Regions from separate parts of the Homo sapiens genome. Here all the other regions are linked to region 2. Evidence: fine-mapped QTL for protein levels in blood plasma. A gene starts in region 2. Each other region holds a variant in brackets. All regions are shown on one strand. Distances are from middle to middle.

The links. PIP is the posterior inclusion probability: the model's chance that the variant is causal. Protein levels are from antibody-based Olink assays in UK Biobank. Linkage for the fine-mapping came from a reference panel and not from the study's own genotypes, which makes the PIPs less certain.
Region 1: its variant is fine-mapped to the plasma level of the TFPI2 protein (UK Biobank, PIP above 0.99).
Region 3: its variant is fine-mapped to the plasma level of the TFPI2 protein (UK Biobank, PIP 0.99).
Region 4: its variant is fine-mapped to the plasma level of the TFPI2 protein (UK Biobank, PIP above 0.99).
Region 5: its variant is fine-mapped to the plasma level of the TFPI2 protein (UK Biobank, PIP above 0.99).

Annotation. Positions count from the first base shown.
Region 1 is chr7:94,174,495-94,179,601 of GRCh38, forward strand. No RefSeq gene overlaps it. Among named protein-coding and RNA genes, the nearest start is that of BET1, 170 kb to the left of the region's middle. The variant T/C (reference allele first, on the strand shown) is at 2,361.
Region 2 is chr7:93,888,157-93,893,263 of GRCh38, forward strand. It overlaps TFPI2 (tissue factor pathway inhibitor 2), which reads right to left and starts at 2,597. Exons shown (of 5, transcript NM_006528.4): 1 at 2,435-2,597; 2 at 1,981-2,163; 3 at 879-1,067. The coding sequence starts at 2,522. TFPI2-DT (TFPI2 divergent transcript) reads left to right here and starts at 2,738. Exons shown (of 2, transcript NR_134235.1): 1 at 2,738-2,923; 2 at 5,086-5,107.
Region 3 is chr7:94,062,528-94,067,634 of GRCh38, forward strand. LOC130890646 (a long non-coding RNA gene) reads left to right here. Exons shown (of 4, transcript NR_186703.1): 4 at 1,899-5,107. Among named protein-coding and RNA genes, the nearest start is that of BET1, 61 kb to the left of the region's middle. The variant G/A (reference allele first, on the strand shown) is at 2,062.
Region 4 is chr7:94,389,464-94,394,570 of GRCh38, forward strand. COL1A2-AS1 (COL1A2 antisense RNA 1) reads right to left here and starts at 2,729. Exons shown (of 6, transcript NR_147206.1): 1 at 2,655-2,729; 2 at 1,942-2,070; 3 at 1,165-1,283. The variant T/C (reference allele first, on the strand shown) is at 2,700.
Region 5 is chr7:93,969,643-93,974,749 of GRCh38, forward strand. BET1-AS1 (BET1 antisense RNA 1) reads left to right here. Exons shown (of 3, transcript NR_186701.1): 1 at 1-24. It also overlaps a transcript of BET1 not described here. Among named protein-coding and RNA genes, the nearest start is that of BET1-AS1, 3.8 kb to the left of the region's middle. The variant T/C (reference allele first, on the strand shown) is at 3,056.

The sequences.
Region 1 (5,107 bases), 290 kb after region 2:
CTAGAGAACATGCATGTATTGTCTGAAATTACGCACTGTTAAAGGAAATAGATTAAACTTGATGAAAGCAAGGAAAAGCAGGCTGTACATACAGAATTGCTCTGGAGATTTCCTGTTTGTCGGGTACTATAGCAGTTCCGCCATCCATCCCTGGAGAGAGCAAATTCACAGAACCTGAAGGGGAGACTAAAAAGGGCTCTTTTTGACCTTGGATAGTATTTCATCCCTTAAAGACTTAAGAAAGACTTGACATTTGGGAAGAAGTCATCAACAGTGCGGGGGCCCACTCACATGCCTCTACCACAGGTAAAAGAATGAGGTTAATAAGCTTGTCTCATGACTGTCAGGTTCTGTCACAATTGTCCCTAGTCTTGAAAATACAGCCATAGCAGATTGCAATAAGTACATTGATATGGTTTGGCTCTGTGTTCCCACCCAAATGTCATGTTGAATTATAATCCCATAATCCCCAGGTGCTGAGGGCAGGACCTTGTGGGAGGTGATTGGATCATGGGAGCAGTTTCCCCCATGCTGTTCTCGTGATAGTGAGTTCTCACGAGATCTGATGGTTTTATAAGTGTTTGACAGTTTTTCCTATACACACTCTCTCTCACCTGCTGCCATGTAATACATGCCTGCTTCTCCTTCTGCCATGATTGTAAATTTCCTGAGGCCTCCCAGCCATATGGAACTGTGAGTCATTTAAACCTCTTTCCTTTATAAATTGCTCAGTCTTGGGTATTTATAGCAGTGTGACAACAAACTAATATGTACATTTATAAAATTCTACAAGATATATTTAAGGAAACAACTGAAGTTAATTTTACTTATTCCTTTCAGAGTTTTTGGGGATGTTGGAATTGTCTGAGGATTTGAGCAGGGCATTTGAGCCCTTAGCCAGGACTCTGTTATTCGATCCCATGAGAACGGACCTAGCACTGTGAGAAACACATTTCCTCCTTTTAATACTGTAGCTGATTTTTAAAAAGGGAAAAACAAAAAGTAATTTTTTTACATAGTTAGAAGAGGAAAAGAGACATATTGGCAGGAAGTAAGCAATACAATATAGTTTTTTTAACACCTGTTGTGGTTATTTATATGATAACCAAATTTACCAAATACCAAATTATATGATGACTAATTTAGTAAGGCCCAAATTACAGTGTCCAGTATGATAGCTATATTTGCAAATATGGAGATAATAAGATGGCTATATGAAATTTGGAACATGCCTGAGCAAATAATATTAACAAAGAACAAAACTTTATCATCCAAGCTTAGAGCAAGTAACTTTCAGATATTTTCTAGAAAATGTATTTAGCATGTCTGCAAATTTTATATTGATTTACAAAATTTTCAGAATCAGCATTCAAGAATTCTGTATTTTGGTACATAATTTCAGTCCTCTCAATACTTGACTCTTAGGCTCATGTAATAGCAAGAGTTCTTGTATGACTGAACTGATTATAGCTCTGTTCATTACTAGCTTTTTGAAAATCTTAGGCAAACCTCTTAACCACTCTGCCTCAGTTTCTTTCCTTTGTGAAATGAACAATAATAATTCCTATCCGTAAAGTTAGGGTGAGGATAAAACAAAATCTACAAAACTATTTGAAAAAGAATTAAGAGAAAAGAAACAAAGTATTATTTTCACACATAAACCATTTGTTAGGGTGAGGATTAAGATTCACTCAAAGCCATCTCAGCCCATGGTGTGGTGCAGCTGGGAACATGACTGCATAAATATATCACCCATTACCATTTCTTTTTCTTCCTTTATCTCTTAACAAAATATAGCTGGCTTTTCTGGCTTCTTCCATAGCTTCTTTGGTAATCATCATATTCCAAGTCCTTTTACTGACACACTGACACATTCTTCTCCTAACATTCTTTTCAGAGACACCCTTGTTTATCCCTTAAGTTTTCTTGCACTTGATATAACCATGTCTTCCTGGTCTCTGATGCTGATCACTGCACTCTGATAAGTAAAATGACAAGAATACCTTCCATAAATTAAAAAAAAATGGGGTTCACTGTTAACTGATTTCACATTGAGAAAAGTTATTCTGATGTTTTCAAAATTGCTTAGTTCTATTTCAAAATTCAAAACCAGCATAATTTTAAGTTAGCTGAATAGGGCATCTGGATATGTAGGCATATTTATTTTTGAAAAGGGTTAAGGGCTTGATAACAGAGAAGGCAGAGTTCCTTTCTCAAATCTTAAGCAATAAATCCTTCACAATAATTTATGATAAGAACCTTAACAAGGGCAGTGACCACAGGAAGAAAGAGAAGATATGACAGGCAAAAAAAGTCCTATGGAAAATGGAGTCAACAATACTGATTGCAACTGTAAAAAT[T/C]GTTGACTCCATTTTCCATAGGACTTATTTTGCCTGTCATATCTTCTCTTTCTTCCTGTGGTCACTGCCCTTGTTAAGGTTCTTATCATAAATAATTGTGGAGGATTTATCAGAGGATGGGAAAGCCAGATGTTTCCTAGATAAATAATTCAATAGTGATGTTGTCAACCGTGTAGAGAATGCTGACCCCTCAGCATCTAAGCTAGTAAACCATGGCTGTCCTTCAGATACCAGTCTCTCTCTAGAACCTCCACACGTTTGTATTTGCTGGGCCCTTTTGTAGTACGTATTACTTTTCTCTCTCCTTTTCTCCTTAGAAATCTTTTTCATAGTGATGTCGGAAGTTTTCATCTCTTTTAGGAAACTTTTTTGAACCATCCAGCAGCTACAGATTCCCTTCTGTTGCTTCTTGACCTGCTGCTTCTCATACTCCTGTGGTAGTACCTGTACTTTGTATTATAATTGTTTGCAAGTTCATCTCCTGGTCCTCAAGGACAGGGCTGTGCTTTGCACATCTTAATGCCCTCAGCACAGCAAACAATTCCAGGCATGTGATATAGAGTCTACAGATTCTATAAATGTATACCAAAAACATGAATGGTAGGATAATGAGTTAGGCTTGTTTTCTTGAGCATGAATGGAGAGATACTAATTATGTAGTTAAAAACATGAATCAGGAACACAAGGGGAAAGGATATTGAGACAGGCACACAGATATGAATGTGGGATTGATTTAGGTCACTGAGAAAGAATGGGTGTCAGAAAAAAATAAAGATGACTACAGTCGTCTTACAGAAACCAAGAGGAGAAAATGTGCCAGATGGAGGAAGTTGTTAATAGTGTCAAGCAAAGCTGCTTCCTTCTTTATAAAATGTGAAATATAACACTTAATACACAGGAATATGTTGAGAACTAGATTGGATAATATATGGAAAATGCTTAAAACAATGGCAGGAACAAAATGGTTACGAATAATCGTTTCAAAATAAAATACAATAATAATTGAAATGACAAAACTAGATTTGGCAATTAGGAAGTAAGTATATGGTAATGACCACCATAGGAACAGCCTCGTTAGAAAGGAAGGGGCAGAAGCTTAATTTCTGTGTGGTGAGCAATAAAAATGGAATGGAAAAATAAAACAGCAAGTGGATACTTTCCACTTAAAAACTACATTGATGAAGGACAGGAGAGAGCTTGGGAGCTTCTGGAGCAGACAATATTGTGTAAGAAATGTTAGGTTGTAGAAAATGAGACTTTTGAGCACGTATATAGCAGAAGAGAACGAACCAATAGAGAGGAAGAAATATTAGATCAGGGGAGGACAGAAAAGAAGGAGCTATGGAGGGGTCCACACAGCTTGGCATTCATGGAAAATTAAGGGAGGTTATGGGGGTTCTCCCTTTTCCACAGGATGGGAGATGAGGTTTCCTGATAAACGAAGGGCTTAAGAGTAGTTCAGAAGTTTAAGAGAAGTCATGAATATGTTGAGTAGTCATGAGAATGAGAACGGAAACTGAAAAGTGAGAATGGAAGAAAAAGAGAGAAATTATTAAACTGCATTTGTGACTGTCAGTCCTTGCCTGCCTTGGTTTTACCCATCTGACCACAAAAACTGCCTGCTACCCACAAGGTTAGTCCCTCATCACTGAGAGTTCCTTTTTTCCTACCGGGGAATAGAGGTGAGTCCAGAGATGAGCTGTTGTTGCCCAGAGCCAAAATCAGCAATGGGCAGAATGCTGGGCACTGAAAGAATTAATCCATTGCTGCCCACAGAAATGAGCCAAGTGGAAACATTTCCAGTGGGTCAAACAAAATCAAGGTTAACATTACCCGGATTCAAAGCACGGAATTAAAAAAAAAAACTTTAAGGTCATTTTAATTTAAATGTTATAACCTGGTATCTTGAATATGAAGTTCCAGGCCTCCAGAAGGTGATACAAGAAATCAACATGAAGGCATCAAAAAATCATTTCTAGCCATAATTATGGGAAAGTAATTTTCATGTCTTTTGCTGCTTTCAAATCATTTTAGTTTTCAGCAAAAGCTCTGCCACCAGCTCTTCTGCCTCCTTTCCACAATAACTTTCTCATGCTCCCACTACACCCCATCCAACCAACTTCAACCAGGGAAGATTAAGGAAGAGTCTTTCTCTAAGTCTCTCTCTCTCTCTCTTTTTTTTGTTTGTTTTTTCAAGTTTCCAATGTCAGTAGTACCTAACTAATTAAATTCAAGATAAGGTTTTCGAGAAATTCTTAAGAATGGATGAAATAAGGTAGGTTTATAAGGAGACTGTGACCTGTGCAAGGAGTAATCTCCCGATCCAGACATTCAAAGGGCCCAGGGTTCCTTCTCAGGTGCATCCAGACATTGGTTCACCACCACAGGCCCAGGAACTTAGCCCACTTCCCTCTCCTTTCTGGGGGACCAGTACCCTCTCTATGACTTGGATTTCTGGGCCATCCCCCTCATAACTGGATATAAAACAGGTCACATTCTTTTCAACTCTTCCCACCTTCATCCCTTCTACCCACTTTCCTCATCCTTTCTTTGCTACCACTAAAGACTCACACCAGATATACTTACATTTAAGTGTCGTACTGCTTAACATTAAGAGGCAAATAAACAGGAGGTGATCAACATAATTAATCAGGGGGTGACACATTTTAAGGTATCTCACAAAGTTCTTACAATGTGTATCCCTGCTCTGTAATTCATGACTCATGGGTTGAGGTACTAAGTGGAAG
Region 2 (5,107 bases):
TTGTGCTGCAATTTGCAATTACTGAAGAATACAGAAATCTAACCGAAAACTTTAGAAAGAAATTTTCAAGTTTCACCATCTTAATTCTGTATATATTCCACTATCTCACATGTATAACTTATTGTGTACAAATCTGAGGTCATAACATTCATTAATGAATACTTTAATCTTTTATGCATAAATTGAGTAGCTGAGAAATAGTTCTAAAGAAACAATTCAGGGCTGGGCGTGGTGGCTTACACCTGTAATCCCAGCATTTTGGGAGGCCGAGGTGGGCAGATCATGAGGTCAGGAGATCAAGACCATCCTGGCTTACACGGTGACACCCCGTCGAAAGAAAAAAGAAAGAAAGAAAGAAAAGAAAGAAAGAAGGAAGGAAGGAAGGAAAGAAGGAAGGAAGGAAGGAAGGAAGGAAGGAAGGAAGGAAGGAAAGAGAAAGAAAGAAAGAAAGAGAAAAAGAAAGGAGAGAAAGGAAGGAAGGAGAGAAAGAAAGAGAAAGAGAAAGAAGAAAAAAAAAAAAATTAGCTGGGCATGGTGGCGGGCGCCTGTAGTCCCAGCTACTCAGGAGGCTGAGGCAGGAGAATCGCTTGAACCCGGGAGGCAGAGGTTGCAGAGAGCCGAGATTGTGCCACTGCACTCCAGCCTGGGCAACAGGGCGAGAGTCCGTCTCAAAAACAACAAATCAGAAGAGGCAGAAAGCAAAAATTTGAATCATGGCTTTGTCACTTTCCAGTCCTAAGAACTTGACAAGTCACTAACTTGTCAAGTAATGTGAAATCATGAAAATGCACATGTTAATTTCGCATCAAATTGAGTTTTTTCCACCCAAATGTCTTTTCAAAAAAGTGAAATAGAAATACCATAAAAATCGTATTTACTTTTCTTTGGTGCGCAGAAGCCCATACAAGTAGCTTCATCTGGAAACCTGTTCTCAATCCGGTTCCGGTGACACCCACCGGAAAAGAATTTTTCACATGTCATGGAACTTAGATTAAAGAAATACTTTTCTGTGGACCCCTCACACTGGTCGTCCACACTCACTTGCAGCCGGCAAACTTTGGGAACTTCTAGGAAAAGGAGGGTAATAGAACAATGTTAGTCAAAAGTAGCCTTCTTATTAAACCATCACTGTATTTTCAGCAACATTTTGTGGGGGGAGAGAAGTTGTATTAGTGTTGGGATAGTAAATACCCAGAATACTCCCATGAATCCAGATATTTACTTTTTTTTTTTCTAACAGTGTATTCAGAGCTGACTCAGCTGTGATGTATCTTTCAAGTTCAGTAGAAAGACTCTCTGTTTTCTCTGGGTGTTCTCTGATTGTACATATGCAGTGAATCAAAGCTTATTCACATGAATACGCATTTTCCCCTGGCTCAGTTCCTTGAATGGAAAAGCCCCATGTTCTCTTACAGGCCTTAACCGATATAATTTAAAAATTAAAAATAAATTAAAATATAACAGTATTATGAATCTCCACCATGTCCCGCAACTAATCCAACACATGTTTGGGTATCGGGACAAAAGTAGAGTTATATAATGAGCTAAGTCACACTTCAATAATAAAATCCACTAAAAATATTTCAGATTGATGGATAATCGACAGAAGGAAATGATGTACTCCAGGAGAGATAAAAATCATAGGTTTGGAATTAATGAAAAATACAGAGAAGCACTTACGTTGTACCTAACACGTTATTCTCTTGCATTTATTATACCCCATGGTGAGGGAACAAATCTTTCCCTGAGTCCGCACAGGCACTGAATTATGATCAATGTCAGTTGGGAGACAGGAAATGTGTTAGTGGTTGTAAATTTGTGATTACTTTTAAGAAACTGAAAACCATGAGGTTTGCTTAACACTTGAGAAAACCCAGGCTAAAACTTCCTGTAGAAAGCGAGACGTGGGAAACTGGCGAAGCTGCTACCAGCCGCCGGCGCAAGGAGCGCGAGAGTCCTGGGTGCGCGCAGGGCACTTACTTTCTATCCTCCAGCAAGCATCGTCGCAAGCCTCCCAGGTGTAGAAATTGTTGGCGTTGCCCTCGCAGCCCCCGTACAGGAACTGGCGGCAGCTCTGCGTGTACCTGTCGTAGTAGTAACGGAGAAGTAGGGCCCGGCAGGGTCCGTAGTCTAGGGGCAGGAGACAGATCTCCGCGTTATTTCCTGAAGAAGGGGCAGAAGGAGAGCAAAAGAGAGGGAAAGTGGTCAGGCGTAGCTCCTAGGAGGAAAGAACATCCCGGGGAGTTCTGTCCCCTTCCGAGCGGAGGGGCCTCTGCAGAGAAAGTGCAAACTTGGGAGCGAGTCCCCCCTGCCAGCGGAGCGCGCGGCAGGGACCTGGAGAAAGCGAGGCTTGGAGGGCGCCTACACGGGGCCCCATGGCCCGCTGCGCCCTCTCCGCCGGTTGGGGAGAGAAGCTCCTGGAGCGGCCAGATACCTGTTGGCTCCTGAGCAGCATCGCCCAGTGCAGCCTCCGTCAGGAAAAGCAGCAGAATCGACAGCCCCAGGGGGCGAGCGGGGTCCATGGTGCAGGGGGTCGGGCGGCCCGCTGGGCAAGGCGTCCGAGAAAGCGCCTGGCGGGAGGAGGTGCGCGGCTTTCTGCTCCAGGCGGCCCGGGTGCCCGCTTTATGCGGGGCGAGCGTCCGGCCGACCCCCGCCGGGGCGGAGCCTGAGGGGTGGCTGATTCATGCACGGGGACTGTCACCCCGCCGCCCCCGCGCTGCAAACTGTGTAAGAGGGAGAGGAATTCCCCGCCAAGTTGAAAAGTTGAACCTGCCTCCCAAACTTTCTCCTGTAGTCCAGACGGGGACGCCCTGAGGGAGCGTTTGTGTCAGTAATGGGAAATCTGCAAGCTAGACGGAAATGACCTGCTAGTGATTGCGCTGTAAAGAAGCCGGAATCCACCTCTTGAAGGCATGAAGTTCAGGTATTTGAAAGGCTGGTGGAGAGAAAGTGCGGAGTTCTTGGGTCAGAGCGGAGCGGGATTCGTTGCAATGGACCTTCAGATTAGATTAGAAATGTAAATAAGTGTATATTTATATTTATACACACAGATTTCAATCGAGTTCTAATTTACATTTAATACAGGCTTATAATATATCGTAGGTGGACAGTTTGATAAATTTTGACAACTGTGTAGCCACCAATAAAGAATTAGAACATTTTGGCTGGGCGCGGTAGCTCGCGCCTGTAATCCCAGCACTTTGGGAGGCCAAGGCGGGTGGATCACCTGAAATCAGGAGTTCGAGACTAGCCTGGCCAACATGGCGAAACCCCGTCTCTATTAAAAACACAAAAAATTAGCCGGGCGTGGTGGCGGGCACCTGTAGTCCCAGCCCCTCGGGAGGCTGAGGCAGGAGAATGGCTTGAACCCAGGAGGCGGAGGCTGCAGTGAGCCCAGATGGCGCCACTGCACTCCAGTCTGGGCGGCAGAGTGGAACTCCGTCTCGAAACGAAGAAAAAGAAGAAGAAGAAGAAAAAAAAAAGAGTTAGAACATTTCCATCACTCCAGAAAGCTCCTGCAGACTTTTTCCTAAATCAATCCTTCCATCCTTAGGCCAGGGGCAAACACTCTTCTCATTTCGATTACCATAGATTAGATTTGCCTATTCTTGAATTTCATATAAACGGAATTATAAAGTATTCACTGTGTAGTATTTCTTTCTCACACTTCCTGTTTTTGAGATACGCCCAGGTCACTGCATCAATAGTCTGTTTCTTTTAATTCCTGCGTAGTCCAAGGTATGAATTTACCAAAACGTATGAATATCCCACAATGTATAAATATGTTGCTGTGTGTATCAATAGTCTGTTCCTTTAAATCATTGAGTAATATTCTAATATATCACAAATGTCTTATTACTGGAATTTGTGTTGTTTCTAGTTTGTTTGGGGGCTCTTATGAAAAAAGCTGCTTTGTGTGGACCTGCAATTTTTATTACTCTTGGATAAAATACTTAGAAATGTTAGACACTGCCAAAGGATTTTTTCAAGATGATTGTACCATTTTACACCCCAACCAAGCATGTATGAAGCTATGTTTTTGTATGTATCTATGTTTTTGGAGAAGAACCATAGCAGCCCAGAGAGATAGCCTTGGGGAGTTCTGAAGATTTGACCAGATCAGTGTATTCCCACACATTTCCTAATGTCAGTGCATCCATTAAAGTTCCCTGTTCCTTTGACATATTAGCTTGTGATCCACTTTTTTTTTTAATACAAACAATTACCTACAGTGAAATTTTACATAAAATATTAAAGATATTTTTGAAGACATTTTAATATACTTGTCTTCCCTTCCCCTTTTCTCTTGTTGTATTCAACATTCTCAAGTAAATAATTATTCTTGACTTCTGAGGATACTGGGGGTAGTTTACAGAAGTTCTCTTTCAAGTTTTCAGGAAGCCCTGAAAAGTATAGGACACACTTGCTCAAAGTGGGTTAATAATCTGAGGTATTTTGCACATTATATCCTTGTGCCAGTTTTCAGTCATTCTGATGTCATGTTACAAGGTCACAGTCCTAGGAAAACCAGCCTGATCTGGAAATGCTGTCAGCTTTGATTAGCAGATGTCTATGATTAAGAATGATAGTTGAAACTATAAGGATAAATGTTTAATTATCACCTCTCCAGTAGGGAAAAATAAATGGGATGGGGATGCTTTGTATAGTTAACTGATTTCTGTGATGTAAATGTGCTCACTAAGGTCAATTTCAAGCTGCCACTGCAGAATCACTGAATGCCGAGGTGGGAAAAGATCTCCAAGAGCCAGAGCTCCCCATGGCCAAAATCTGTGTGAGCTGGCTCTAATGCACCAACCACTGAGACAGACAGCCAGTTTTGGAATGACACATTCAGAGTAAAGTCAGATTAGACCCTCCCAGTTCCTTCAAAATATTATTAGGGGAGGGAATTTTACCACTCATTTACCGAGAATCATATTCAGGAGAAAAGTTGACTCAACTTCAAACTTACCTATATCTATCTTCTGAATAAAATTAAATATATCTTTAGACTAAAATAAAATTCAAGGACTGATACTCAGTTTTCATGGAGCACTGACTACTGCCATTTCTCTTTGTTCTCAGGTGCTGGACACTTTTTGATTGT
Region 3 (5,107 bases), 170 kb after region 2:
GTGTCTGCTACTAATCAGACACACTCTAGTTTGTGGTTGGTGAAGCCAGAGAGTGATATCATTTCCTAAGAAACAGGCAAGGAGAGAGAAAGCAATTGAAGGGTGAAGAGCAGAGAACTATGAAGATGATTCAGGAAGAGGCACATGGAGACTAGAGGTAAAACAGAAGTTCTGGGCAGTGAACGAAGACATCTAATACAAGGAAAAGGGGGCCAGGGACTGCGGAGGAAGGAGTAGTTTAGATTTGATCTTATTTGCACCCACAGACCAGTTGCTAAGGGTCCAACTTTCTCAGGGATTAGATTTAACAGAGATAGAAAGTTAGTTTTCGAAGAGAAATCTTATTTATTAGCTAAAGTATGTCCAGTTTAATTATGTAATGAAGATGAGTATTTGTCACTCATTTATTTGAGTATATATTTTATAGATAACAATGTACCAGAGTGTAATAGAAAGTACCTTACAGTATAACTGTAGTGATTTGAATGGCTTGTCTGAGAAGGATGTGGAAAAAGGTCCCATATCTCTCAATATTAGTACCCAAGTCAGCCTAAAAAGAAACAAAACATTGTAAATATCTTGGTTCCTAGTAACAGAAGAGATTTTAAACACAGAGTCACCTAACTGAGTGGAATATTTTTAATTTAGTATCAGCACCCTTTCCTAAAGATGCTATAAATTAAGAACTCTCTGATTTTTTTTAAGCCATAAGTGTTAAAGAGTAATCTATTACAAATCAAGTTCAGTCCCACTCTTGATAACATTGTGTTTTTAGACTAATTTTGCAGGTAGAGTGGGGCATAACTCACCATAGTTTTTTCCTTACAAGCTGTATTAATTATTTTAAAAATAGCAAACATCATGAAAAATAGCCCAGCCAAATACTCATTTCTTTGCTTAATGTCTCATTGCTTGGCAATTTTCTTCACTGTCATTTTCAATGGAAAAATACCTGAAATTCATCTACTGAAATTCAACTGAACGGAGTGGTTTAAAAAGAATCAATAGACATGCTAATAATAAGGAAAGCATTCAAATGCAATATAGCATATGTTTCTAATTACCACTTCACAAGTCCCAGTTACAAATTAAGTCTCTTTTATTTCAATTAACAGTCTAATGGTGCTTCAGAGAGATAAAGAATGTTTTAAAAAGAAACCAAACCTCTGATGAAGAGCACCCAATTTTCTCTCCAAGGAAACATGATGAAGGTTTTAAGCTATGAGAAAAGTCTGGGATAGGTGATTTGGGAACTGTATTGTCCATCACAGCTAAGAGATGTAGATGATGTTTTTGGTTTTTGGTTTTTGTGCTCCCCTTCCTGGGACCTTCTCAGCCATTCTACTGCCCACTTCTCTTCTGATATCCTATCATGGGAGAGAAGTCACCCAGCTGGCCATGCATCTATACAACAAATATTTACTAAGCACTTGCTTTGTACCAGCATTTAAGTACTTGGTCATGAGGATTCAGTGGTATATAAGATCTAGTCCCTTCTCTCAGAAAGGTTGTTGTTTAGTGGGATAGACAGACATATAAGCTAATAGTTCTAGTGTAATGTGTCTATAACAATAACAGAATGAAAACATCTATAGTAAAGATTGATAAGTTAATTTACTCTAATGTGTTACGTCATTTTACCCAGAAGTTTTTAAATGAACAGAAGAATATATATACATATATTCTCTTTCTTTCTCTCTGTGTCATTTCTATGGGTGAAATTTCTGGTATTTGTGATTAGGATGATGAGATATCTGATACCCATAGAGGTGACCACAAACTCTGTCCATAAAGCTGAGCTTGTTATAAATTTTAATTTCAACTCAGGGCTGGATAAATTCATAGAATGTTAAGGGTTCAAGGAATTTCACAGTGTATCTTATTGATTCATTTTACAGATGAGGACCCTAAGACCTAGAGAAACTAAGTCATTTGCTCAAGAAGACAAAGGTAATCATCAGAAATCAACATGAGATTTCAGCTCTCCTGATCCTTAGTACAACATGTGAAAGAAGATATGTTGTCTTTACTCACAGTGGAGGCATTTTTCTAGCTGTGTTT[G/A]ATTTGGCTTCCCTATAGATTCAGGACCCATAACTCTTGTTCTCACTCATCTGCTATGCTGCTGATAAGGACTTTCAGGTCAACAGCTGTAACTGCTAAATGAAGTTAATACTCTGGAAAAAAAAAAAAAAAAAAAACCAGAAGGAACAGAGACCAAAAGATTGAAAGCCATTTGGAAATTTCTTGAGTGGTGTCTGGCAGGTCTTTTATGAAGATTATCATAAACCAGGAAAAAAAAAAAAAACGCCTGCTGACTGTGTTATCTGTAGTGCCTATTGCCTATTTTGGCTGATTCATTGATGGTGTAACAGATAACAGAATGAAAGGAAATGGTTTGGTTTCTATAAAGGAAAAAGAATGGTTTGTATAAGGAAACCATTAGTTTCCTGAGATTGCTATACCAAATTATCAAAACTTGGTGTCTTAAAACAATAGAAATTTTTTCTCCCACAGTTCTGGAGGCCAGAAACTCAAAATCAGTATTTGGCGGCTGAAATCAAGGTGTTGGCAGCACCCTCTGGAGGCTCTCGGACAGAATCTGTCCCTTGTGTCTAACAGATTCTGCTGGCTGCTGGCATTCCTTGACTTGTGGTCGTATCATTCCCATCTCCTCCTCCATAGTCATAACGCTTTCTCCTCTTCTCTGGCATTTGCATCCCTTTTATAAGACACGTATGACTGCATTTAGGGCTCACCAGGATAATGCAGGATAATCTTCCTATTTCAGGATCCTTTGCCACATCTTCAAAGTCCTTTTTGGCCAATAAAGTAATATTCACAGGCTCCAGGTTTTAGGATGTGGGTAGTGGTGTTGGGGTGGGGGGCAGATTTGGGGGTGAACAACCAGCCTACTACTGGTGGGTGACTGGTTATCCATCATTCTTAAGTCAGAAATGATGACCCAAAATCTCTTTTTGCTTTTGCTTCACTCATTTTGCATTTAATTACTAGGCTCTGCTTCTTCAGACACTTTTATTACAGTTTAGTTTTTGCTACATCCCTCAAAAATGTCTTATTATTTTCACGGCCTGTCATTTAGTTATGTTTTCTTCTAAGTGTTTGGCTGTCTTGGTCAGTGCTCTAAAGGAATTAAAATCACTTGGTCAGGGCTCTGAAGTAATTGGTCAGTGCTCTGAAGTAATTAAAATCACTGTGAAGCTGAATGAAAAATCAGAAGAAGAATCAAGAGACCTATGTTTTGCTTGTTAGGAGAACTGTGTATCCTTTATGTCTATTTTTGGAGTTGGTGGTAATTTCTGGTCAAGGAATCAAATGTTCTTATTCCTAACCATATAGTCAGATAAGATGGCTAAGGTGCTTTCATAATCACCATTGATTCACTGTCAGATGGGCCCGTGCTCTGTGACAACTTTTCAATATTATAGACTTTACCAAATAAAAAGGTATCTCCTCATTCTGTGCACAGAAAAAGAAAATGATGGATGAGTATATTAGCCAGAACCCTGTCGCAGAAAAATAAGCATGAGTGTGCCCTTTCATGCCTCCTGAGAACTCCTGTGCTAGACAGAGCCTGTTCAAGATGTCTTTTCTGACTTTCTGATTCCAGTTGACATCTAGGCATATAAGGCAACTTTGTGATGGGGCCAGAGAGCACCACACATTGTTGTGTATGAAATACTCTATTCAGCAAACAAGCCGTGCAGCAACAAGACCTAGTGTGGTCAAGGATGGTGGACTAAAAACCACTATGAAAGCAGAGATGTAGCCACCTCTGAGACTGGTTTTCTAAGCAGGATGACTTGGTTCCATCCCTACAGGCATCGTCTGGTCCAGTTCAGCACAGAGCTAGCTGCAAGTGACAACCTAAGAGAAAAGTCAGCGAGAACAAAGATCCATCTCTTCGTTGACTGCCTTAATCCCTAGAGCTGTGTTCTTCAATTTGTTACTATTTGCTACAATTTTTCTGCCTAACAAGCAAGTTCTATCCTGCCTAGGAGAGAAACTTTTAGTAAATTCATCTTCATTCACTACTATTCAGCTCATGCTGTAAAAACTTAGATAATGCTGTCTGAAATACTTAACTCCTGGTCAAATGCAGCTGCTATTTCATTCAGTATAATCAAAGAATAGCCAAGGACTTTAGTTAATATTTCTTCAGATGATAGAGAATAAACAAATTGTTTTGGATATATCTACCATGCCCTCCAAACATGATTGTTGATATCTTTTCTATATAAATTACTTTCCTACATAAATGGTACTTAGCTTTTCCTTGAAAGATATGCTCTTCTCTCCAGCTCAAAGATAACCCTCTTTCCCTCAAATTATAAGTAATTTATATTTAATAATCTTTCATACGAATTTTTAAAATTACAAATGGTAAGGTACCACTATTTTTTATTTTGTAACAGCACAAACCATCAAATCAGAAAAAAAGAAAGGTTGAGTATGATCTCTGAAAAATGAATTCTAGTAGCATGTATAGCAAAAATCATCTTAGAATGAATAGAAGCCCTGAATAACTCAATGACCACCAGGCTTGTCTGCATCCACGTTCTACTTGGTTAACTGTTAAATAATATCTAACTTGTTGCATTGTAAAAACAACATGTGTCTGTAAACTGAAAAATAGATGTTATTATCCACCTGGTTTAGTCATAATGGAGAAATGTCCTTCAGTTGCATGATGCTCTTCCTATGAATGAGGAAACCAGATCAACATTTCCATTCAAGTTCTAGCTTGCCTATAACATTTCTTAGCTCCTTTTGCAAACCAAAAGTGGCAGCAGTTGTAACTGAATTAGTCTAACTGCTCAGACACATGCATTTCTGTTTGGTTGCTCTGGTCTCTTCTTGAAGGCCAAGTGCTGTGATCATTTATCATCATCAGAATTGGCTGCCATAACTCAGTGTTCCCGGGACCTGCAGTGGGCAGAGCACCAGCACAACCCGTAGAAAGCAGCTCCAAGATCAGCACCCTCTCATAAACCTACCGAGCCAGGAGCATCTTCCAGGCCCTCCACTCTCAGGAGTTTCAAGGAGAAAACAAAATGCTGAGGACTGGGAATGAGAAGCTTCAACCTTG
Region 4 (5,107 bases), 500 kb after region 2:
TCTTCTGTTCATTCTTTAACATTGGAGCTCTTCAGAGTTTTGTCCTATGTTTGATTGTTTTCTACTTTCACACACACATATAATCTGGGAGATTTCATCACTCCCATGACATCAGTCATCTGATGACTCCTTTATCCATAAGTCAAGGCCAAATAGAGATTGTGGACTTGAGGCCTAAGTATCTAATTATCTATGAGACTTCTCCTCTTAGGTGGCCCACAATCACCCAAAATTGAACATGAATTGGCCTCTTTATCCTCCCCTCCCCACCCCAAGCTATCTCCTCCTCAAATGTTCCCCAAGTCACTGGATGGCACCTCCAGTCATCCAGTTGCCAAAGCCAGAAACTGGCAGTGCTCCTTAAGTCATCCCCTTGAATTCTTCCTCTCTCTCTCTCTCCCCATTACCAAACATCAGAGCACTTTTCTTCTACTTCTGAAACATTTCTATAGCTCATCAACTTCTCTTGAGCTCCACCACATCTATCCTAGTTCAGGCCACCATCATTTCCCCTCAGAATTCCTGCTGCAGTCTCCTTACTGTTCTCCCTGTCTCTACTGTGCTCCCCTTCTAATCGTTTCTCCACACTGCAGCCCCAGTCATCTTATTCAAAACACTCTCTGGTTTCCTACCCTCTCTGTTTAAAATAATCTAAACACTCCCATAGCACACTTGAGAAAACACAAACACCAGAATACAGCCTAAAAGGTCCTTTTTGATCTGGTCCCTGCCAAAACCACCAATCTCATCTCTAGCTCCTTCCTCTATCCTCCCTCTTTTCCACCACAATCCCATCGTACTGAAATGCTCCATTCCTCAGATTGCCAAATTTTTCAATGCCTCTGTGCCCACACCACTCTCACACCTCTTTTTAAAATTTTGTTTGTATTTAAGGGTTGAACAAGGATGTTGCATCCTCCAGGAAGCCCTCCTTGATTCCACTTATCTGAATCTAGATGAGGTGTCCATCCTAAATCCTCCCATAAACATGTAAGCATTCTATTCCTCCATTACAGTATTCATCACACTCTTCTCTATCCTCCAACAGACTATAAGCCCCCTGAGGGCAATGACCTTGGCATTCTGTTTCATAATTATATACCCACCAACCCAGTAAGTGCCTGGCATAACACTAAATATTGCTTGAGTAAACATACATCTTACCAGCTGGGCGAGGTGGCTCATGCCTGTAATCCTAGCACTTTGGGAGGCCGAGGTGGGTGGATCACCTGAGGTCAAGAGTTCCAGACTAGCCTGGCAAACATGGTGAAGCCTCCTCTCTACTGAAAAATAGAAAAATTAGCCAGGGGTGGTTGTGGACACCTGTAATCCCAGCTACTTGGGAGGCTGAGGCAGGAGAATCGCTTGAACCCAAGAGGCAGAGGTTGCAGTGAGCTGAGATCGTGTCATTGCACTCCAGCCTGAGCAACAGAGCAAAAACTCTGTCTCAAAAAAAAAAAAATATATATATATATATCTTGACTCATTTAAATAATCAATGGGAACTGAATATCCTAATTGATATGACACAGAGCAGGAATCTCCATGCCTTTCAAACAAATATCACAGAAAGAAATCAGCCCTTGCTGGGCACAGTGGCTCACACCTGTAATCCAAGCACTTTAAGAGGCAGAGGCAGGTGGATCACTTGAGCTCAGTTGGAGTTTAAGAAAAGCCTAGGCAACATGGTGAAACCTCATCTCTACAAAGAATACAAAAAATTAGCCTGGCATGGTGGCATGCACCTGTAGTCCCATCCACTAGGGAGGCTGGGGCAAGAGGATCACGTGAATCCAGGAATTCGAGGCTGCAGTGCCCCCAGATCATACTACTGCACTCCAGCCTGGGTGATAAAGTGAGACCTTCTCAATAAATAAATAAATACAAAATTAAAAACCAGCACTTAACTCTTCAGCTACCACATTAATTCTCAGCAAATACCTTCTTAGCAGTCGTTTGACAATCAAGTCAACTAGAACTGGAACTAGAATGAGATAACATGGTATTGCTTCTTCTCACAGAGTAGATCCTCAATGAATGTTTGAAAGGAGATGTCAGTCCGATGTTTACCTTTGATCAAAGAAAGGAATATAAGATTAAGACATCAGGGCCTCGTCAGGCTGTTCTGCATTTCTGTATTAGCCAGACTCTCAACCATTTTCTTGCCATATATAAACATGTGGCCCAGTTTGTAATCAGTGGGTTATAGGAAGCTAAAGAAATTATCTTTTCTTTCATAGAAAATAATTTGGGCATAGGAACCCAGGTATTAACCGTCTAGCACCAAAGTTGTAGGAATCTTTAGTCTCCTCTGCCTCCCTTCTTCCATCCCTCTACTCTCAGTCTTGACCCCACCCCACCCCTTACTTGTTTTTCCTTCTACTCATTTTCTCCTCCCTCCCTCTCCCCTCTCCCCACACTAGAACCATCAGGGCCCTCACCAGGGCATTCAGTTCAGGTTCTGGGTCAGCTCTCACAGCTCTACCAGTCCCACCCCCATCCCCAGGAAAAACTGCTCCTTATTTGGAGTCACAAAAATATTTAACAGAGATCTAACTGACCACTAAAAATTCCTCCTTTAAAACAAACACCTAATCAACTATTTTCCCCCAAGTTATATGGAAAAACAGCTGCAATTAGAACTTGATTCTCACTTTAAGAAAGAAAGATTCTTGTTTGGTTTTCTCCACTTTCATTTT[T/C]TGTTTCTAGGTCCAGGGCCTCCCACCAAATGCTGACGGCTGCCTGCTTCAAACCCTGCCACATCAGCAGGGAGGGAGCACAGCGGCATTTGGTATTTGCATCAGTTTCCAGGAATGCTTTTCAAGTTATCAGTTCACTCTGCTGCCTTTAGCAGAGACGTTTTCCCTCTAAGTTTATAGATGTCTGCTTCAATTTACAGTCCTCTAATTCTCAAAAACTTGCTGAGGATTTTTCTTTTTTGGCTAAAAGAGAAATTATAATCACACTTCTAAAAACATTCTATGTTTTAAACTATTTTGACAACAACAACAAAACCTACAATGAAATGTTTAAAACTTGGGATATCTATTGCAAATCCAATGATTGAGCCAACTTGACCCCAGAAGCGTTATCAGATAACCTCACTGAAGGGTATTTGGAGGGTTTCTTTCATAAATCTGTTGCATTACCACCCTGAGTCATTTTGCTCAGAATTAGTCTCTGACTCTCAGCAACACAGGACAAATACACACATATGCCCTGCAAAGGTAATTCAGCACAGTGGTAACAATGATTCTTAGAAATCATTTCTCACTCTTCTGATATGCAGAAAAAAATTTGTTATGATGTAGTATTGAAGTTTTTCTTTCCTGATAAAAATGATTTCCACTTTAAAAGTTTTTTGTTAGTTCTGTAACGGTGATATTTCAGGGAAATGTTAAAAATGTTCTTGGAATATACAATTCAACCTCAGGTCTTTTGTTGTTGTTGTTCCTAGAACCTAGAAAACTTCAAACATTGTTGCCTAGTTAGAAAAAAATTTGAATGTGGATTGCTCCCTGTAAACCCCCTTCTAGGAATGACCAGTAACCCTTTCAAATTCTTTCACTCCCAGTTACTTCAAAAAATCATCCAAAGTGGTCTCCCAAGTGAGTGCCTTTAATTAGAATAAAACAAGAGTTTATTATAGTTTTTGGTTATCCACTTTTACTTGCATTAACCTTTTTTTCTTCTTTTACATTTAGAAAGAGTAACCTGCTTTAGAATAGTCCCTTTTATTTACAGAAGCTGCTGATGGAGTTAACTTCTGCAGAAATTCTTCCTTAAGGCAAAGCAAAAAAAGCGGGGAGGGGGTGGGGGGAAGGAAGGGAAAAAGATTCTCAGGGAACTACAGCCCACTTGCTTCTGTTTCTTAGAGACAGAACTGACCTAAAGATGCCCCCTTTGCGATGACTTCTGGGATAGAGCAGCACTCTAACTAGGCCCCCGCTGCCTCATGGGGACCTTAGGCAAGTAGAGGAGAGGCCTGACACACACACACACACACACACACACACGCACACGCGCGCGCGCGCACACACACACACACAGCCTTTCAAACCTAGGGCCTGGAATGCCATCCCAAGAGGCTTTAGAAAAAGGCACAGGACCTTTGGCCTCCCACCTCAGGGTCAAAGTACCAGTTCCTCCTCTCCCTAGTAGGGAGTGGAGGGTTGGATGGAGGCGGCCAGAGAAGAGGGAAGTTGGGTGCTGGGGAGAGAGTTAACATCCACGTTGGTGGGCGCACTGCTTGGGGTGTTACCAGCGAAGACTACGAAGACCCCAAGCTCGAATCAGAAGGGCCTCTGGATGTGCTAGGGGAGGTGCTTGGGTGTGGCTGTAAGAGATGGGACAGAGAGTAAGCAGCAAGGTCAAGAGGGACCGGGGGGCTCACGGGAGGGTTGAAGGGTCCAGGCTCAGGGTAGAACTGGTAAATCCAGACAAGGAGCCCATGGAGAAGGGGAGGGGAGACTGGAAACCATGAAAGATCCCCCACCGCAGCCTCAGAAAGGAGAGACTGAGAAATAAGTTCTCGGTCTCCAGGTCGGTTGGAGTCGTGTCGGAGTGCCAGACCATCCCCCAAAAGACCCTCTTTGGAATGAGCCTCAGCAAAGGCAAGCTAGGAGGTCGAAGGACTTCCCCAGGTGACTCGGTCTAGTCTAGAGTTCGCAAAGCCTATCCTCCCTGTAGCCGGGTGCCAAGCAGCCTCGAGCCTGCTCCCCAGCCCACCTGCCAACAAAAGGCGCCCTCCGACTGCAACCCAGCCCTCCACAGACAGGACCCGCCCTTTCCCGAAGTCATAAGACAAAGAGAGTGCATCACTGCTGAAACAGTGGGCGCACACGAGCCCCAAAGCTAGAGAAAAGCTGGACGGGGCTGGGGGCGGGGTGCAGGGGTGGAGGGGCGGGGAGGCGGGCTCCGGCTGCGCCACGCTATCGAGTCTTCCCTCCCTCCTTCTCTGCCCCCTCCGCTCCCGCTGGAGCCCTCCACCCTACAAGTGGCCTACAGGGCACAGGTGAGGCGGGACTGGACAGCTCCTGCTTTGATCGCCGGAGATCTGCAAATTCTGCCCATGTCGGGGCTGCAGAGCACTCCGACGTGTCCCATA
Region 5 (5,107 bases), 81 kb after region 2:
CACCTGAGCACATGCTGACTTCATGTAAGTATTTTTGTGCTTATTTCAGTTTACAACAGTCAGTGCAATCTCACACGGCATATATTTCTATATTCTTTATTTGTGGCTATTTGAATTATTCATATGTTTAATTTTTAGTCTCTTTATCCTTGATTCTTCAAGATTCTGGAAATGATAATTTGTTCTTTTCTCACCTGGTTTATGATGATTTCAAATGCCCTACTTGGTCTCATTGAATTTAGCTATAAATTTCAAAATTGAATTGCAGAAAACAATGTATACTATTTGAAATCAATCTTGGATAAGTCATAATTACCCAAATATTTATTAATTTGATGAATTTCTATATGCCTTTTTTGGTCTTCACAGAGAGAGTATCAATTGCTAAGTGTTTTTAGTCAGTGGCTCTTTGTAAATGAAATACCTAAATTCACAATACTTCATACAAAATGTGTTACATTAGAGTATTTGCATTAAAGATGTTTTACTCTGCAATAAAATTTTGTACAATCTAACATTCATGAAAGAGGGAAATAAGTGGATTTTGCAAAGAATATTCACCAAGACCTTTGTTTAATAGAGGGGAGAAAAAGAAATAATTAAATACTAGCAGAAAACAGGGTTGCCTCTTTGGGAAATGTACTCATTCAGGTAGCCCCTGGAACATTGGGTAAGTATCTCCTCTTGTCTGGGTAGGTGACAGTGTGTGGAGAAGCTAATGAATGCAGGGCCAAATTGCACCTCTTTGTTTGGTGGATTTTTCTCCATCTCCATTAGCTCTCGAGAAGAAAACACTTATTTGACCTTTTAAGTAGCTAGACTTCAAAATAATTTTAGAATTTGCATATTTTACGCATTTTTTTCTGAACCCTGAGCACATATAATGCAAATATATAGTCATAATTCTTACTCTGTTGCCTTGTTCTAAATAATGAAAGTATTAGAGTCAACTCTTTGAGACAAGGCCCATCTTACATTGACATCCCAAAAATGGGAATAGTGCTCCATAGTAAACAGTTTAAAAATATTATTTGGATTATAAAATGAATTAATTATATAAAGAGAAAATGTGTTCACAAATGTAATTGGGAATAAATGTGTTAAATATTACATAGAATCTGGTTTTAATCCAAAAACGACTCAAACTTATTAATTCGATTTGTATTTTAATTCAACCATTTAGTTTTTTTCTTTAAATATTTCAGAGTGTTAGTAATATACTAGCTGGAAGATGTAGCTAGATGGTAAATTGTCAGAATGAACATAGAAATCTTGGAAAAGACAGACACAGATGAAACAAATATATCTTGCCTGGTCCCTGAATAGGGGGACATGCTATTATCGAAAGTTTTAAGTAGCTGTGAATTACTTATAATAGCAAGTACTGAAGATTGTAATTTATGTTATTATGTTATTAAGCAAATTGCCTGACAGAAAATATTGCAGTATATTAAAACAACTTCTACTGCATCTAACATAAATTCAATAGATTAAAATATATACTGTATATACTGTAAATAATACTTAAGCAGAAATACCTATAGAATACAATATATAAATAGGCACCTTTGTTTCCCTTCACACTTCATTTAAAAGCCCAGACCCCCTTTTAACAATATATCTTGCTAAAAGCAATGTGCCCTTTTTGGTGAAACAGGTACCATATAATGAAGCTCAAATCTAATAGTCATAAATTGACTTACTGTTGTTAATGCATTAGCAAGTAATAAATCCAAGTCCATGCCATCAATACAGGAATTCTGTTCCTGCCTTAAAATTTGAGGACAATTTAAGTCTACAGAGTTTTTCTTGGAATAACAGTTAATGCTGAAATGAAAGTGGCATGCAAATCTCCCAATTCAGGAAGAAAAATAATCACAATATGCTTCTGCTGAATCTAAACAGCCCTACTTCCTTTCACAGTACCTTGTGAGCAGTCCTCTTAGGTGTCAGTAGTAGGCCTAGTAAACATTTTTTGTCCAAGGCTGTCCCTATGTGGCCCCACTTATGCTCACATTATGACTTCAGGATAATAATTAATAAAGCCCACTTTCACTCTCCAAAGTGTCTCGGTCTACATAATAAATTACATAGTTATTATATTATAGGTTAATGTAATACATATGAAATTGTATTAATGATATGGATTCATTACTAATGAGATTTAACTAAGAAAGTTTAAATTATATGGTAACTTTCCATGAAGTAATCTGAATTTTAAAGGTGCAGATAAATGCTTTATTAAATGAAATGCTTTTTGATATTGTACAGCTTTTTCCAGAAACTGCAAGCTTAAAAAAAAAAAAGCCATTGGATATGAAAAAAGAAGCATTCTTGAGAAAATTCCCTAAGGAGAATTTATTTTTTCTTAAAAAGGGGCTTTATTTGAGGTGTCAAGCTAAGATTGTGCTCCTTCCCACCTGGAGAATAACATTCGACATCAAATATTTGGCCAGAATTTTGCTATAGACATTAGCAAGTCATTCCTTTCATCTGTGATTGTATACGAAGTGTTAGCTCTAGAGTGTGAGCTGCCATCCATCAGAGACAACGTTTGCTTCTCCTGTGTAACAATGTCACAACACTGTAAGTTCAATAACATTGCCTAAGTAGTCAGGCAATGAAACCAATATGCATGAAATGCTATCATTGTCGTTGGCTTAAAGGCAAAATATGTTGAACCAAGGCTATTTTCTTATTCAATTAACATTTACAGAAAACCTATTATGTGCCACGCATCTTGACACAAATTTTTTATTTGTTCCTAATAACAACCTGTGAGGTATGTGTTACTTTCCAGATGGGGAAATAGAAAGCCAGAGAGATTAAGTGACTTTTTTAAAGTTACTTAGCTGGTAATTGATGGAAGGTTGATTCAAATCAAGGCTGATTGATTCAACATGTGAGCTCTTTCCGCCCCATTTCTGCTTACATCTCTGGCTCCAGACTTTGATGTTTGGCCAAGAAGAGACTTTTCAGAGTGGTAGAAAGCCATTTCCTACTAATCTAAAATAAGGATTCCTGCATGGAGATAAAATTGAATATTATTTTTTCC[T/C]ATTATTTTTGATAGCCATTTCCTACTATTCTAAAATAAGAATCCCTGCATGGAGATAAAATTGAATATTTTTTTCCTATTATTTTTGAAACATCTTCAACACTTTCCTTAGGGAAAAAAAGTGGGTAGACAGCATCACTCGTATCTTTTTTTTTTTTTCTTCTATCATCTGCCCTTCACAATTCAATGGAGGAAACTGTACATTTCAGTGGGAAGATTCTATTATTCTACTACTGCAAGACAGCCTTATCTTCTGCATATCATTTATTTTTGAAGCTGTAAACTGGCTGAATTCTTTAGTCTTTCCAACTTTAAAACTAGAAATTTTGCTCCGAAATGAAAGAGTATCAGGAATACAAAGGAGAACAGGAAAATCTGAGACTTTTTTCATTTAAGATCAATGAATTATTTGGTTATACAGATATTTGAAGTATAGTTAACAGATATCAAAAAGAAGTCCTGGGTTGCATTCAGTCATGGCTGCCACAGATGTCAAAACTTCACATGTGGGATGAAAGATTGTCCACAGTATGGAACAAGAGAGTTTGCAGTTTTTAAGGATTCTGCAGTCTTACTACTAAGCAAAAGCCTGGCATTTTAGATCTCCTATAGCTGTTGAGCAGAATTGAACAGTCATTCTTGAATCATATTTACTACATTGCTAGCTGATGACTAAAGTAAAGGCTCAAAACTTCAGCTGTATCTAGGAAGGTTTTGGGATCCTCAGTTCCCCGAACTTTTTGAACTACAAAGTGTATATTATTCCCATCCACCAGAATTTAGCTCTGGGGAGACAAACTCTGGAGAAGGAGTTTTCATGAAATAGATTTTCCATGTGAATTACTTGAACTGCTGTATAAAGAACTCAGAAAAAAAAATGTGTATGCATACAAACCATACATTTTAAAAACCTAGTGACTACTGATCATGGGGCGAGAACACAGAAAGACAGATAAGAGAGGTCTATAGGCTTCCCATGTATACCTCAACACCTGGCCTCTGGGCCCTGTGATGAGAAGGCTGAAACACAAAGGAATCTGAACAGGGACACTGCATACAAATACTGAATTATATGCTACATAAAGGTTTTAAAATGCACCAGGCCTGGGAAGAACCCCAACTAGAATACAAACTGTAGCAAATGTATCTAACTGTATTAAAAATGAGTAACAGAACACTACAGGAGGTGTAAAAGAAGAACTAACTTATTTTGGAAAACAATATTTTGATTGAATAGTATGAGGCTAAAGACAAAAAGAACTGCACACAAATAATATACTTTCCTTAGTAAATTTGTTCCCAAATGGGTACAGATTCATATTTCAGAAGCTATTTTCTTTGTATGCTAGGGTTGAAAAAAATACATGCATATATTGAAGAAAATGAGAGTCAGTTTTCTCTTTGTCTATAATAGAAAAGTTATATATAAGAAAAGGGATAGCTAGAATAAACCCTGTAGTATTGGATTGGAATTGTAGATATCAATATGAATTCATCATTTTTAAAGATAAATACTGACATAAACTTAGACATATGTGTATGCAATAACCAGTATAATATATGTATTCTGAAACCATGTTCACTGACAGGTACTAAAAGTAGTGACACTCTGTTAGTAGTAAGCACACCTGTCACCCAGATTTTTGTTTCTAATACCTTTATCTAATAAAAGGAACCAGAACTCCTTGGAGATATAGTTGATTCCAAGGCTGGCACAGAAAATATACAAGATAAGACTTTAGCCCCATGCAGCAGCAGGAAGTACGACAGTGCTCAAAAAAGAATAGGGCATGTTGAAAGGGCACAGGAGCCAAATGGAAAAGATCCCAATGCCCAAAGCTAGAAAAATTTACAAAAAGAAAAAATGTAATTGGATTATAATCCATAGAATAAAGTAAATATCTGTGGTGCCATAGTGATAAAGATAAGTATTTGAGTAGATACATAAATGTAGGAGAAGAGGCAGCTCTTCTTTAGAAAAAGATTCCAATTAATAAGTAAAGAAGGAATGAGGGAAATGGAAAATCACCATTAGAACACCACTAATGAATG